Linked DNA regions of Homo sapiens: region 2 is linked to region 1. Evidence: fine-mapped expression QTL. A gene starts in region 1. The other region holds a variant in brackets. All regions are shown on one strand. Distances are from middle to middle.

What was found.
Region 2: its variant is fine-mapped to the expression of RPH3A in blood mononuclear cells (TOPMed, PIP above 0.99). The same link has a PIP of 0.9 or more in monocytes.

The regions. Positions count from the first base shown.
Region 1 is chr12:112,787,083-112,795,421 of GRCh38, reverse strand. RPH3A (rabphilin 3A) reads right to left here and starts at 3,674. Exons shown (of 22, transcript NM_001143854.2): 1 at 3,410-3,674; 2 at 3,159-3,279. RefSeq lists an enhancer at 3,041-3,582.
Region 2 is chr12:112,883,129-112,891,467 of GRCh38, reverse strand. It overlaps RPH3A (rabphilin 3A), which reads right to left. Exons shown (of 22, transcript NM_001143854.2): 16 at 8,066-8,175; 17 at 3,545-3,671; 18 at 1,388-1,444; 19 at 465-619. Among named protein-coding and RNA genes, the nearest start is that of OAS1, 20 kb to the left of the region's middle. The variant C/T (reference allele first, on the strand shown) is at 4,534.

The sequences.
Region 1 (8,339 bases):
GCTGAATTATTTAAAATCATCAGCTTCAGCCCACCATGACTGGGTCCCAGAATTATTTTTATCCCAGATTATGGCCACAGCTCTTAACAGAAATAAACCACACTGTTTTCTTCTCATTGGCTTCACATCAATTCCTGGCTTATCTGCAATTACAATCAGCTCCCCACTGAATGAGGGTGAAGGGCAGAAGACAGGTCCATGTGTCATGGTGGTTTTTATTGGAAAGCCATAAACTCTGTAGGACCCATTCACAGAGAGGGAAAGAGTTAAAGCATAATGTCACAGCCTACAAAGAAAGCCCAAGAGCAGCCACCCCAACCAAATGCACATCTTCAGACAAAGCAGCCAGTCTGTGTACGGAGCAATAAGAAGGAGAAAGGCAGAGTAGGCTGGGGGCACTGACTTTCCAGGCTACCCCTGTGGAATCACAGAATCTCTGTCTGCTGCCTCTCTCCTGCCAACAAGAAAGGAAATGTCCACATTTGTCTCCATGGCTAAGCTTCCTGATTACCAGCACGGGCTGGAGAGACACTGCTGAACATCCTTCCTCTGTACCTCAGGCTGGACTGGGGGAGTAGGGGCTGCTGGAGCCAGGAGTGAGGGGATGATGCCTTGGTCTTCATAATGGTGGGTTTATATGTTGCTGCCATAACTTACTGTGTGGTCTTGGGCAAATTGTTTTTCCTCTCTGGGCCCCCCTGGAAAGGGTTAGACTAAATCAGAGGTCCTGAACTTGGGGGGGTGCTCACATGGGCATTATTGAGGATCCACTAACCCCCTGATGTTGTGTGTTTGTGTGTATATGCATCTTTTCAGAGCAGAGCCTCTCCAAGGAGTCCTTGCTGCTACTCCTGAGAAGAGTCTCTTTGGAGCCTTCAAGTGCTGCAAAATCTACATCTCTGTGCATCTGAGGCCATAAATAAAGCAGACCCCTTTCCAGCTGAGCTCAGGATTCTAGAAACCTAGCAAAGTTCTCACAAGAGACTCCCCTATCCCCAATCACCCCAAACAGGGCCTCTCCCCGACACAGGATAAATTCTCAAGCACAGTGCTAACCCTTCCTAGAAATGTGGGCATGTGCAGTCACTCACACTCACACACATACCTATCTCATAGTCAGAGAACCCCAGAACTTGAAGGGGACTTAGGGCCACCCAGACAGACTGCCCCATTGCATAGATGGGGAAGCTGAGGCCCAGAAAGGGGAGACAGCTGGGACTGGAACCCAGGTCTCCTGACCCAAGTCCAAGGCTCTTTCCAGAAGCTTCTCTTTCCCTTTCCCTGGTGCACCACAATGCACCACTTCAAATGTGATGGGGGAGGAGGGAGGGCGGCCTCTTGGATCTTGGCCATCCCTAAGGAAGTGACCCAGTGGAGAGATATTTGGGAAGTGTCCACATCTGGACACCCAAGTATTAGCTATCCCAGCTGGGCTGGCCTGTACTGCATGGCTAAACCAGTTGTTAAAAATATTAAAATAAAATATAAATATTAAAATTAAATGGGGATGCTGCCCTGAGGCCTCGTGGCTCTCTTGATAGCCCCCTAAGATCCCCCCAAACCTCTCCATAATCCAGCAATTAAAAGATTAACACTCAGTACAGCAGGGGCCCCCTAAGATGCCCTATTCCAGGACCCTAGCCATTCTGATCGATTAGTACCAAATTTCAATACTTTAAATATCACCCATAGCCAGATATGTGGTTCTTTTTTTGAACAAAATTTCCACACATTCATTATTCACACTCAAGTCTTCCCAGTGAGGAATCTAAGGCAACTTCCTCCTCAAGGTCACCCAGCAAGAGAAGCTAGGAAGAGAAGTTAGGGATTTTGAGAACCAAATCTTTGACACTAACCACCAGACAACCCTCCTCTTCTGCCTCATATGTCCTGCCTGAGCAGGCACATGCTGTGGGATTTCAGCATCTCTTCTTAGCTATGGGGCTAGAGAAAAAAAGAATGAGTGAACCCTGCTTATATTTCAGGCTTGCCAATCTCTGACTGTTGTTTTATTCCTCCCACCTCCAAGAGCAAGAATCTAAAAAGGAAATCCTTGGGGGTGCAGAACACTGAGGTGGCCCCTGAGATAATAGCAAAAATGCTAAAAACAAGGGCATTCATTTCCAGAAAAGTAGATGTAATCAAAGCAGAAAGCAAAGTGAAATCCCCTTTTGATGGGTAGCAGATTAGCATCAAAAGCATTTCAAAATTAAATGTGAGCTTTTGGATTCAATTTCAAGGTACTTCCACTTCCCACTCACTAACAGGTTGGTGCAGCCTTTCCCCATCAGGATCTTGGAAAAAGAAACTAGTGCAGGGGGACGGTCTACCCTGGAACAAAACTGAAGCTGAAGCCTGGAATCTTTCCCCAGAATTTGAACAAGCTTTGTTCCCCTCCTTCCTTCTGAGATGAACTCAAGGATAGAATCTCCCAAGCTAGTGCCAGGACGCTCCCCCATACAATCACTTACAGGTTACGCCACCTGTGAAAATAAAACATCATCTCCTCTGCAGGCAGTGGCTGCTCCCTTCTGGCCAGCCTGACCACTCATCCCAGGCATAGTGTGGCCCTTTCCTGGCTCCCAGGTCTTCCATCTCAGGAAAGCGTGAACAGCCAACCTCGCAAAAATCACCACAATTAAATTACTCAGCTGTTCCTAGAAGAGGGTACAATCTAAGCTCTGTCCTGTGCAAATCTTACCCAGTGTGCCCAGGCAAAAGTTACCCTTCCAGTCTCAGGTGACCCCCTCCCCTCCAGGGATAAGCACTCACTTGCTAAGTCAGAGTACCCAGAGTCCCTCCATGCTAGACTAGCCAGCCCCACGAAGGGTTAACTCTCTCAGAGAACTGCCGGCTACTTTCACCAGCTTCTGCTGCAAAGGAGAGGGCAAATTGGGCAGAAGCCACAATCTTGATCGCATTGCCTACAACATGAGCACATTTTACCCCCTCCCTGGGCACTAAGCCAAAATCTCATTTGGCTTTGGGATGCCGCTTAGGTGATAAAACACTGCAGGATGTAGGCAAATAAGCATAGTCGTTCCTCGATACCCTTCTCCTCCCAACTACCCTTTACCCCACCAGCTCATGAACACACATCACAATTGGGATTCCAACACCCCTAGCCCATCTGCACAACCCGGGAGAATATCACTTACCGCGACGCTGGAGGCTTGCAGGGGGAATGGGTGAGCCAAATTCTTGCCAACTCCTCCCTTCCCTGCCGGGTAGAAAGACGCTAAGTCCCAATGACTTGGTTTAAAAGCTCAGCGGAGGTGCCTGAAAGAAAATTGTTCATTTGACTCTCCTACTCTTCCCAAAATAAAATCAAAGCACCAGTGCACACACGTAGACACACAGACACATCAACTACCCCTAAATCATGCAGGACCAAGACAAAAAGAAATACCACTGCCAGAAGCGGAGAAAACTCGGACCAGCCAGTGAGTCAGTGGACAAGGGACAGTGGCTCCCTCAGACTGTCCTCCACATGGATGAAGGTTTTAGCTCTGTGAGTCTCTCTCTCTCTCTCTCTCTCTCTCTCTCTCTCTCTCCCTTCTCCCTTCCTTTCCAGTCCGCGTAGGCAACTCCGGGCTGCTGGCAGTAGACGAATCAATTGCTTCCCCAGAGCCAGTTTCTGCCGCGGCTGCCACCACTACTGCAAAGCCCTGTGTGAGCAAGGGAAGCGGGGCGGCAGCTTCCCAGTGCAGGGGGAACCAAGCGGGAACCAAGCCTGCCTCCCACCCGTGATTTATGTGTGCGGTGCCTGGAGAAAGAAAGGTGGGAGGCCGGGAGGGGAGGTTGGGCGCACCAGAGATCCCAGCTGGTCGAAACGGCAACCAGGGGATTGGCGGTCAGCACCACGGACAGCGCTAAGATGCCTTGGAGGAGGGGATGGGTGGGAAGCGAACCCCTAGGCAGAGAAGTTAAGTAATTGGATGGTTAAAGCAGAGAAGGGGGGAGTCCGGAGGGGTGGGGGACGGGACTTCTCGACATCACACAGTCTAGTCAGTGACAGCTTACCTACCACACACTTTTTCTAATACTGTCGCTCACTCTCAGAGCAAAGGAACTATAACTTCACAGCCCCTGTCTCCCACACGCCCCCAGTCCTGCATTGCTCCTCTCTGCTCAGACAAGAGCTTGGCACCGGTGTGGGGGGCTCCCTAAGTGGTTTTGCCCCTCAAAGTTTCGCCCAGATGACCTGTCCTCACCCCCATTGCTGCAGATTTTTGACCTGTACCTGGAGTTTCTCAGAATTCAGAGCAGAAAAGCTGAGGCTTAAGAAATGGAAATTTCTAAGGGGCAGGGTGGCTTAGTTGAATAAGCACTTGATGGTTTTCTGGAAGTCAGATCCAGCCCCCTTACAACTCTGGAAAAGTCATTTAATGTTTCCAAGTCCCATCTGTGAAAATGATAACATAATGACCTTATTTTTCCTAAAGATAGGAAGCAAGAGGTTAAAATGCAACAATAAGAATACCCAAGCTGTGAACTGCCATGATTTCATGGTCCATAACCTGTCCTAAAACACAAATGTTTGGACAGAGTGATAAAGGAATTGACAGCCCAGCTAGGATGGCATGTGCCAACCTCACCCTTCAGCAGGTGGTTTGAGTAGAATGAAGGGAAATTTTAGGTCTAAATCAGACCATTGAGCCTTGGCCAAAGAGCCTTCCCCGAAAGATCCAGACTGGCTTTCTGAAGTGAATTCACTATATGGACAATGAAATAAAAGTATCAAAAGGGGAAATATATAAAGATGAATGGATTCCCATGGCTCCCAGTGCTCCATATCTCAAGAGTCCTATTCCTCCTAACTTTGGGAAAGGGCTCAAATTGGAAAAAGGCCAGGAAATCTCAAACAGACCAAGATCTGCTTAGAACTTCTCTGCAAAGTGAAGGAGAACTCTCTCTATTGGAGACTCATATCTAAAGCTTCCCATCCAGATGGCCCAGGGTTAACTACTACATTTGTCACTTACTTCTCCCCATGAGACCCAGGAGTTAAAATGAGAACATTTAGAGCTCATTTAAAAAACAATTTTTTAAAGACAGTGTCTCTGCCAGGCGCGGTGGCTCATGCCTGTAATCCCAGCACTTTGGGAGGCCGAGGCAGGTGGATTACCTAAGGTCAGGAGTTCGAGATCAGCCTGGCCAACATGGTGAAACCCCATCTCTACTAAAAATACAAAAAAATAGCTGGGCATGGTGGTGTGCACCTGTAATCCCAGCTACTCGGGAGGTGGAGGCAGGAGAATCACATGAACCTGGAAGGCAGAGGCTGCAGTGAGCCGAGGTTGCACCATTACACTCCAACCTGGGCAACGAGAGTGAAACTCCATCTCAAAAAAAAAAAGAAAAAGACAGTGTCTCACTCTGTCACCCAAGCTGGAGCGCAGTGGTGCAATCATAGCTCACTGAAACCTTGAACTCCTGGGCTTAAGTGATCCTCCCACCCCAGCCTGTCCAGTAGCTAGGACTCAAGGTGCACACGAATATACCCTGCTAATTTTTTTTTTTTTTTTTTTTTTGCAGAGATGGGTCTCACTATATTGCCCCAGCTGGTCTTGAACTCCTCGCCTCAAATGAACCACCTGCCTCAGTGGTGGTGGTGGTGGTGGTGGTAGTAATTGTCATCATGATGGTAATCATAGTGATGATTATAGTGATGGTGTTGATTGACAATGATTATGCTGATGATGTTGATGGTGATGATTATGGTGGTGGTGGTGGTGGTGGCAATGATGGCTGCTATTGAAAACCTACTATGTGCCAGCTCTTCTGCTAGGAACTTTACATGTATCATCTTCTGAAGTCCTCACCATGACCCTTTCAGGACACTAGTATTATTCCCATCTTGCAAATGAGAAAACTTAGACTCAAGAAATAAAATTCCTTGCTCAAGGCTTCACAGTAAGTTACAGACACAGCATTCAAACTCAGTGTCGTATGATTCCAAAGAACATGCTCCAGGATGTCTCTCAGAGTTCATTTCAAATGCATTCTACAAGTTTGAGGGGAAAATTTTCATCGAATATTTTCTGGGATGATCCTGTGACATAAATTCAGTGTCCTCAATTTACAGATGGAGAAACTCGGGACCAGAGACGAGAATTGACTTGTCCATAATCAAAGAGCTAGGAAGTAGCAGAGTTGAGTATAGAATGCAAGCCTTTCAGATGCCAGGACCTGTGGTCTATTGCCTAGGGCAGTCCCAGGCACATAGGAAACCCTCAATAAACAATATCGTTTGTTTTATTTGAGACAGAGTCTTGCTCTGTCACACAGGCTGGAGTGCAGTGGTGAGATCTCGCCTAACCGCAACCTCCACCTCCTGGATTCAAGACGTTCTCATGCCTCAACCATGCAAATAGCTGGGACTACAGGTATGCGCCCCACGCCTGGCTAATTTTTGTATTTTTAGTAGAGACGGGGTTTCGCCATGTTGGTCAGGCTGGTCTCGAACTCCTGACCTCAAGCGACCTGCCCACGTCGACCTCCCAAAGTGCTGGGATTACAGGTGTGAGCCACCACACCTGGCTGCCTCAATAAACATTTGAAGAGTGATTCAAGAAGCCCAGGGAGAAATGAAAGTCATTTAGGATGCTGGTGGTGGAATCAGAACCCAAGTAGTTCCCAGGCCTCTTGGCTTCCAATCCCAAAGAATTTCTCACAGCTTCCCCAGCCATTAGGCATGTATTCTGGGAGGGCCTCTCATGAATTCAGCTCTCCCTTAGGGAATGACAATAGCTACCACCTGCTGCATACCTAGACACTTGCCATGTGTCACGCATTGTACTAAGCACTTTACAGTGATTATCCCCACACTTCACAGCTACCTGAAGTGGGTGCTATTACTGCCCCATTTGCAGACAAGAAGCAGACAGATGATGTGAAGCCCCCAAACTCACACAACCAGGGAGCAGCAGAGGCAGGGATGCAAATCTCAGGTCTGTCTGACTCCAAAGCCTGTGTTTTCATGACCCTGTCAGTTTTTCCTAAACCAGGCCCCCTAGAGGCCCCTGTGGAAATGAAAAGAGGCCTCAACTGACCCTCCACTCTGGTTTCAACTAGAACAGTTAGTGGTGCTTTTAACTGTTTTGCATACTGGGCATCTGCCCAAGCCTTCATTGAAACAAGGATTTTGCACCAAAATTAAAAAATAATAATATGGTTGAAACCTGAGCTCTCCACCCTCTCTGGTCACCATGCCATCTAGGAACTAGCCTTGTCTTGTCAGGGGACCTTGCCCCATCCTGCCCACCTCCCTGGTCACCACTGCCAAACCCCTCTTCTGTCCCGGGTGCTTCTGGAGAACCCTTTGTTCAAAGAACCAGCTGCTGCTGTAAACTCCACCAGCCTGTGGCACTGCAGCAGGGAGACACCTCAAAACCCAGACTTCTCAAGGCTGAGCCCGGCCAGGGTCTGACTCTCTCGAGGCTTCATTCAATGATAGAACATTGCGAAGATTCCTCAGGCCGCAATTCAGCAAGCTGCCTTGCTCTACCCTTGTTTTATGGAGCAGAGGCAGCCCAGTAAGACTTTCCATCACCCCAAAGAGGATGGGAAATGATGAAGGTAGTAATAGCTACAGCAACAAATGCTACCCACTACCTCCTGCACAATTTGTATATGTGCAGCGGCATCATCTCATCCTCCCAACAATCCCATTTCAGGATGATAATGGTTTCATTTCTGTTCTATGAAACTGAGACTCCTAAAGCAACTAGCCTGAGGCCATTGAGTTCATAAGTGGTGAGACTGGAATTTGAACCAAGACCCTGTGAATTTATGATCATTATGCTATCTGGCATTCCTAATTCCTAATCATCTCTCCTTTTGCAGGGGGCAGGTGCTTACTATTTACCAGGTGCCATGCTTTATCTCCCCAGCACTATTCATGACTGACAACAGTGAAAGGAGGTTGTGTTGTGCTATTTACCCATTTTCAAGATGAGGAAATCAGACATGGAGAGCTCAAGTGACTTGCCCAAGATAACACAGCCAGGAAGAGGGGGAGAATGGGGTGTGAATCTGAACAGTTTATCTCAAGGTCCTCTGTGCTTTTCTGTCTCCCAAGGAAATGGGCACTGAGATAGCCCATTTCACTTAGCAAGTGTGGTAGGCAAAATAATGGCCCCAAAAGATGTCCACATTTTCATCCCCAAAAGGGGTTAATAGATTACCTTAAGTGGCAAGTGGGACTTTGCAAGTGTGATGAAGTTGAGGATCTTGAGGTGGGGAGATTATCCTGGGCTATTTGGGTGAATCCAATGTAATCACAAGGGTCCTTATAGGAGGGAGGCTGGAGGGCCAGAGTCAGAGAGGAAAGGTGT
Region 2 (8,339 bases), 96 kb before region 1:
ATAACAGAGTCCCTTTTATTCTCCATGATGAGATTGCTGGAACAGACCCCAGACTGAAGGCATGTTTTTTTTCTGAGCATTTCCAGAATGAATCTGGAAAATGCCAGATGGCCTCTTTGGTGGTGGAGGTCTGAGCGGTCCGAGGGGTGTGCGGCCAACTCCTGGGAGTACAAATGGGGCTACTATAACTAATTAGCTTAGTTGCAGAGCCATCAGCAGGCCCTCAAGAGGACAGAGCCACAGAGCTTTGCCTGTGGGCAAGTGACACACCAGTTTGACTGCCTGAGACTCCAGACCCACATTCTTGCCAGTTGTAGGCATTTGTTTCACTGTGACCTTGGGCAGGTTCCTTGCCCTCTCTGGGTCTCAGTGTACAACGATCTTGGTGAAACTGTCTGGTTCTCCTTTTCCAAGGCTCCAGGACTCCTTCAGGGCCCACCTGTAGCCCCAAGGCATTGACTTACAGCTTGACGAATGGGTCTGAGTAGCCATTAGCGTCCATGGCAGCCAGGTGCACGCAGCGTATGATGCCCACAATGAGGCCTCCCTGCTGTGTGCTGTACATGAGGGAGACCAGGATCTTGCCACGCTCCTCGATGTCACCAACACGCTCCACCTGCTGCATTGGGGGAAAAGGCAGTGTGGGCCTTGGAGGGGAGGGGGCCAGGAAATGTGAATGGCGAGCATTAGGGAAGAACCTATGAAGGGCAGGCGAAGCTTGGCCAGCTCTAGGGAGCCAGTACCAGGGACAGCAGATGGCTTAGCCTCCAAAGAGGAGCCAAAGGTGAAAGTTGAGGACCAGTCTCAGGCACATGGGGACCAATGGCTTCCCTTTGACTTAGACATAAACAGACTCTGACTGTGAGCACAGACTAAACTTGCTCCGGGTCACTGATTGGCTTTGGCTCTAACCCAGGACTGAGCCTTGACCCTGGCCCCAGACAGATTCTTGCCTCTGATCTCAGACTCCCTTAACACAACCAGTATTCTTAAAGGGCAGTCCTTGGGGTCATATGAGGGACCCAGGCAGACAGCATGAAGGCTTAGTTCAGTTTCTGCCATGCACACAGCTCAAAGAATGCATCTACTCCAAGAAAGGAGTGTGCCATTGCCCTAGTCAGTAGAATTGTCAACAAAGCTTCTGACAACAAGGCCAAAAACCTGGTGGGCATCCTGGGTATGAGAGAAAGGGGCTTCCCCCTCCTCAGAGGCTTAGGTGTGGAGAGGACATCACTTGTGGGCAAAGGGTTGTTCTCAAGGCAAATCAACAGGGGGGTGGTTGGAAGAGAATGGATGAGGAAGGGGCCAGGGAGGGAGAGAAGAGGAAGATGCTAGCCTAGCCCAGTACAGACCCTGACTGTGGCTTCAATTCCTGCTCAGTGCTCACCTCTTCCTCATAAAGGGCCATGCCTCGGGCTGACCCGGTGGTCCCAGCACGTTTCATCTTAAAAGAAGAAAACAAATAAAAGATAACATTGTCTATGGAGCTCATCTTCCTGCGCAAGAAGGACCAGAAACCCCTCATACTTCCATTACCATCCAGAGCCATGAAAGTGGGTTCTTAAGCTACTGTGGCTCTCCTGCATTCTCCCTTTTAGCTAAAATTTATAAAACTTAGCCATATGGCAAGCTATGTGAATGTGTAACAACCTATGATATAGGTTCTGTTACAATTCCAATTTTACAAATGAGGATGCTGAGGGTCCGAGTAGTTAAGCCCCTTACCCAAGGTCACACAGCCAATAAGTGTCAGAGCATTCCACACACAAACAGACAAGATTTCATTTTCTCTGGTTGAAGTGGCTCAGGGGTCTTGGGGTCTGACCCACCAGGTGCTTTTGCCTTCATGGCCCCTGGGGCCCTTTTGCTGAACTCTAGGCTCTGGGAAACAGAGTTAGAAAACCATTGGTTAAATCCAACCTCCCCACTTTGGAGAGGAGGAAACCTGAGGTCCAGAGGGGAGGGGCCCTCAGTGGGACATAATGGGGGAAGTTCGTGGTGCAAGGGTTAAGGTTTAATGGCAAAGAGCAAAAGAAGATGATCAGTAGTGTTCTGCGGCTGCTGCAGCCCTCTGGGTGTCCTGCACCTCCATGTCTCTGGGGCTGGCTGCATTCACCATAGCAAGATGGGAAGACCCAAAGGCTGATGACACAGGCAAGGGCCTGGCCATTGTCCTGGCCAACTGGACTCACGGAGTTGGAGAAGGAAGAGAAGCCTGAAGACCCAGCTGTCACCAGGCAAAAGCCCAGAAGAAGGGCCTCATTCCTAGGGATGTCTTTAAGGATTTATTCTGAGCCTGGAATTCAGTGGAAATCCTTCCTTGAAATTTTCCTTGTTTGGTCTTGTTCCTTTGCCTGAACTATAAAACTATGGCATGGCATGCAGACATTCCATCCTCAGGCTGGCCATCTGGTGGGAAGATGCTCCTGCACCCCATAGCTTCCCTGTGGAGAGCAGGCAGGCTGCCCAGAGAGACCAGGGGTGCTGGTGTTGTAGGAGAGCTGGACTCTGGCCAGTGCCCAGAGACCTTGGAGACTTGCTACCCTTTCTGGGCCCAAGTTGGCCCATACGTAAGGCAAGGCAGCCTGAATTATCTCTAAAAATATAGATTGTTGAGTCCTACCCTACCCCACTAAAACAGAATCTCCAGGGGAGACCCCCACAAATCTTAGCTTGTAAAGCTCTGGTTTTAGAATCCCCCGGTTAATTCTGAGGTGCAACCCCATTGCAGAACCTCACTTTGATCCTTGCTATTTTCTCAAAGAGCAAGAATCACATCTGACAACAACAATGACAGTTCTAATACTTCATATGTATTATCACATTCAATCCTTAAAAGATCCTATGAGGTTAGTACTACAGTATCCCATTTTACAGATGAGACATCTGAGGCCCAGAGAAATTAAATAATTTGCCTCAGGTTATACCCTAAGTGGCAGAGCCAGGATTCACACCCGAGAGTCTGGCTGCAGAGCCCATACTCTTAAACTCTAGGCTATGCTGTCTGCTGTTTATCTACATGGTGCTTTCTGACTTCATGACTGACAGGTGGGTAAGGCAGCAATATTTCCTACACTAACAACTGTTAATTTATGAGTGCTTACTATGCATTAAGTTCTATTTTGATTATGTTATTTTTTAAAACACAACCCTCCCAAGAGGCAGGTACTGTTATAACACCCACATTACAGACAAGAACACCGAGGCTCGGAGTGGTTCAGCCCCTTGGCCAAGGCCATGGAGCAGCAAGTGGCAGAGCTGGCTCTGAACCCAGGAAGCCCATGCTGCCCCTGCCATGCTGTCCATCCAGTTTGGCCAAGAAGAACTCATGTTCGAAGTGATGCTGACACAGGGTTTGTGAAAGGCAGAGAGAGAATGCAGCCTGAGGTTGTGAGCTGGAATCTTGACTCTCCTCTGCAGACCTGCTGCAGTGCCTCTGCTACCCAATACCCCGTGGATCTATTTCCCCCAATTCAGACCCAGAGGAAGGCAGCTCCCCCAATCTCCCCTCCTCCCATCAGATCCTCAGGGTAAAGTCACTCACAGGAATCACTCGCTCCAGGCAGATGTTGAAATTCTTCCTCTGGTTGGGCTTCAGTTTCTTGAGGGAGAATCTGGTCTCACCAATAAATTCATTGTGGCCAAATTTGTCCTCATCACAGACGGAGATCCTGCCACCAACACAAGGGGGTAGAGAGAGAAACAGGAACAAATATTAAGACACCACTGTGTGCCAAGAGTTGCAGCTGATACTGGTAAGGAATGTGTAATGTATGTGGAAATAATATGATTTCCTGTTTATTTATCACTGGACCAAGTACCTTTAACTTCTTCTTTATTGCAGTATAACTGACATGCAGTAAAGCACATAAATTTAGTTTATAGCTTGATGAACCCTTGCATTTGTATATACCCATGTAATTCCCACCCAGGTCAAGATATAAAACATTCCAGAGACTGAAAGATCCTCAGGATCCTTTCTAGTCACTGCCTGTCTCAAAGATAGCCACTCTTTTGCCTCTGGCCACATGAAGTCATTTGTCTGGTTTTTGACCTTCATATAAATGGAATCATATAATATAGACTCTTTTATGTTGGCTTCTCTTGCTCAAGATTATGTCTGTGAGATGCATCCATGCACAGTATAACTTATCCTTTTTATTGCTGCATAGTATTCCACTGTGTAAATGTACCATAATAATTCTGCTGTTGATACAGGTTGTTTCTAGTTTTGAGTTATTATGAATAACGCTGCTATGGAATATTTATGTTCATGTCTTTCGGATATACATGTACATATTTCTATTGAGTATTTTCCTAGGAGTAGGGTTGCTGGCCATGGACTAGGCATAAGTTTAGCTTCAGTAGAAACTTCAAAACAGTTTTCCAAGGCAGTTCCACCAATTATGTCCCTACCAGCAGTTTATAAAGGTTCTGGTCACTCTTTATTCTCTTTGACTTCAATTATGTCAGTCTCTAATTTTAGCCTTTCTGGATGGGTCATAGTATGTCACTAGTTTTAATTTACATTTC[C/T]CTGATGATTAAAACAGTTGAGCCCCTTCTCATATACTTTATGGCCATTTGAGCATCCTCTTTTGCAAAGTCAGGCTAGGAACTTTTCTCATTTAATTTTTCCTATTTCAAAACAACTGCATTTACCATTTAGAGAAGATACTGGGGCCCAGAAAGATTAAATAATTTTTCCCTAATAAGAGGTAGAACCAGGGTTTGAATCCAGGTCTCCCTGAATCCTATAGTAATATATTGCCTTTTGTTATCTACCTTACACAGCATTGAGTAACAGTGGCACAAAAAAGGCAGGTCATAAGAAATGTCCCTTAGGACAAGAGTCTCCAACCCTCAGGCCATGGACCAGTACCAGTCTGTGGCCTGTTAGGAACCTGGCTGCACAGGAGGAGGTGAGCAGCAGGTGAGCAAGCATTACCACTTCAGCTCCGCCTCCTGTCAGATCAGTGGCAGCATTAGATTCTTACAGAAGCATAAACCCTATTGTGAACTGCACATGTGAGGGATCTAGTTTGCACGCTCCTTATGAAAATCTAATGCCTGATGATCCAAGGTGGAACAGTTTCATCCTGTAACCATCCTTCTCCCTACCCCAGTTCATGGAAAAACTGTCTTCCACAAAACTGTTCCCTGGTGCCAGAAAGATTGGGAACTGCTGCCATAGGAGACCAAAAGGACCAGTCACGGCATGATAATTCATCCTGACAAACACTAAGAGAGGAAAGGGCTTATTGTCCTGCAAGGCATGGGAGGCATTCTTGGGGGACAGGAAGGGACTGTAAAAGTACCGCACTCCTTGGCCACCAACATTAGTTGAACAAATGTTCAAAGTCCTGGAGGGCCCAAACACCCTCATAGCTGAGTCCTGCACTGTCTAACACTGGAGAAAAAACTTGTCTCTACTGAGCTGGTTGGGGTGTGAACAATATCATCCTTCTTCAGGGCAACGCATCTCCAAAGACATAAGAGAATAATCACTGTTTTTGACCCTGTAGCACCACTTATAGGAATTTACCTCAAATATATCATAAGGCAAGTACAAAAATATTTAACTACAATGGGTCCAAAAAATAGTTAGAAGGAATAAATGAGATCTAATATTTGATAGCACAACAGGGTGACTATAGTCCATAATAATTTAATTGTACATTTAAAAATAGTGAAAAGAGTATAATTTGATTGTTTATAACACAGGGATAAATGCTTGAGGTGATTAAAAAAGACATTTATTTTAACCCATTTAAAAAACTCATGATGCGATTATTACACACTGTATACCTGTATCAAATTATCCTATATACCTCATGAATATTAATATATACACCTACTATGTACCCTCAAAAAATTAGAAATATATTTAACTACAAAGATGTTTGTCACAATATTGTTTATAACTATGAAAAAAGCAGAAATAACAAATACTGTACAATGGAGGAACTGCTTAAGAAAATTATGAAATAACCACAAAATGTAATAGTGTACATTAGAGAAAGTGTTGTACTTAGTCATCAGGGAAATTTGGAACCACAACGCAACACCAGTGCACACCTACCAGAATGGCCAAAATGAAAAAGTGTTGATGAGGCTGTGAAGCAACTGGAACTCCCATGCATGGCTGATAGGAGTGCACACTGGCACAGCCACTATGGAAAACTGGCAGTTTCTATTAAAGCTGGACGTACCCATATCTTATGGCTCAATCATTACACTTCTAGGTATATATGCAACAGAAATAAGTGCACCTGTGCACCTAGAAACAGCTACTAGAATGTTCCTAGCAGCACTATTTGTAATAGCCCCAAACTAGAAACCACCCAAATACATCAACAGTAAACTGGATAAATAAAACTGCATTATATTCCTGCAATAAAATACTAAATAGCAACAAGAATGATCTACAACTACACACAACTTAGATGAATACACATGTAAAATGTTAAATGAAAGAATATAGATACAAAAGAGCCACACAATAAAATTTCATTTATATAAAGTACAAAAACAGACAAAATTAACTTGTCCTGTAAGATGTTAGGATATTGAATACCCCAGGGGAGCATTCAATAAGAAGGGGCCACAGTGGGGGTCTTCTGCAGTCTAGGAATGTTCCATTCCTTAAGCCCAGTATGTTCACTATTGTGAAAATTCATCAATCTGTGCATTTATATGTGCATTTTGCTAAATGAATGTTATGCCGCAATAAAAATATTTACTTAGAATAATGTTGCAGCCAATTGGGAAAGCAGTTTGCATGTCTTGTAAAATTGTTTTGGAAAACATCACATATCCCATGATCCAGTAATAATTCTCTTTGGTTTCTGTCCTAAGGAAACACTCATATGTACACAAGGAAGAATAAAGTTGCTCATTGCAACTTTGTTTGTAATAGAAAAAAGCTGAAAACAATTTAAATGTCCACCCAAAGGGAATTGGCTAAATAAACTGGTAAACATTTACACAAAAATTTAAAACATGCCAAACAATGCTGTACATTGTTTATAGATACATAATTATGAAGTATAAGACATACTTGAGAATGATACCCAAAGAATTCAGGATGGTGTCTAGCTCTTGGGAGAGAAGGAAGAGGACAGGACAGGGTGGGAGATAGAATATACAAAAGGAGCTTCAACTTGCATCGGGGGTGCTTTATTTCTTAAAAAAGAGCTGACGCAAACACAGCAAAATAGCAAGATTTTTAACAGATCAAGTATCGGGTGGGTTCATGGATGTTTGTTTTAGTATATTCTACACTTTTCTATTCATTTGTAATATTTAAGGATAAGAACATTTAAAAAAATCTGTGATAAATCCATTCTGTGGAATATTCTGAGGCAGTTAAAAATTAGGTAGATTTAAATGTCTTTTCATGGCTGTAATACTGAGATATATTGTTAAGAAAAAAAGGCAAGTTCCATACATATATATATATATGGAAATAAGTGCACCTGTGCACCTAGAAACAGCTACTAGAATGTTCCTAGCAGCACTATTTGTAATAGCCCCAAACTAGAAACCACCCAAATACATCAACAGTAAACTGGATAAATAAAACTGGATAAATAAAAGTGGATATATATATATATCCATTACTTCTAATGGCAAAAACTGCAATTACTTTCACACCAGCCTAATAATTCAACACTGTAGAAGAATGTGAAATGGCATCAGTGTATTCTTAAGTGATACAGATGTACTAATGAGATGATCTATTGTAATAAACATTTTTATAAGCACTCAATTTTATTAGGAAAAAACTTTTACATACACACCCACACACGCACCATCCCCCAACACACACCCCCTGAACGAACAGATACCAAGATGTTAACAGTAAACAGTTTCAACTTATCTGTATTTTCCAAAAGTTCTACCAAATATATATATCATTTTTTGGTAAAAGTAAACAAGAAGGAAAAAAATAAACTATGTAGAGATCTTTTTAGAGTGAAGCCCTGGGGGCCTCACCCCAAGTCTCAGTTCCACCCACCCCGAGTCTCCCCTTTGCCTCCCTCTCTGCCCTCTGCCTGCCAGGTACCTGAGGGTCTTCCTTTGCATGTCCTCATCGGTGATGCCGTGATACACGAGGGTCTCATTCCAGATGGGGTTCCGGGTATTCCGCAGAGTTTTTGTACGAAGCTTGTTGGACTAGAGCCCGAGAGAGATGGACAGAGACACCTACCTCAGTGGGGAGCCAGTCCTGGAACCCCATCGTTTGGGCTGACGTGGGGTGGGTGGGTGGCTTTCCCCATAGGAGTGTCCAGGGGCTTAGTTATTCCCAAATGCATGTTCTCAGGGAGTGGGGGATGTCC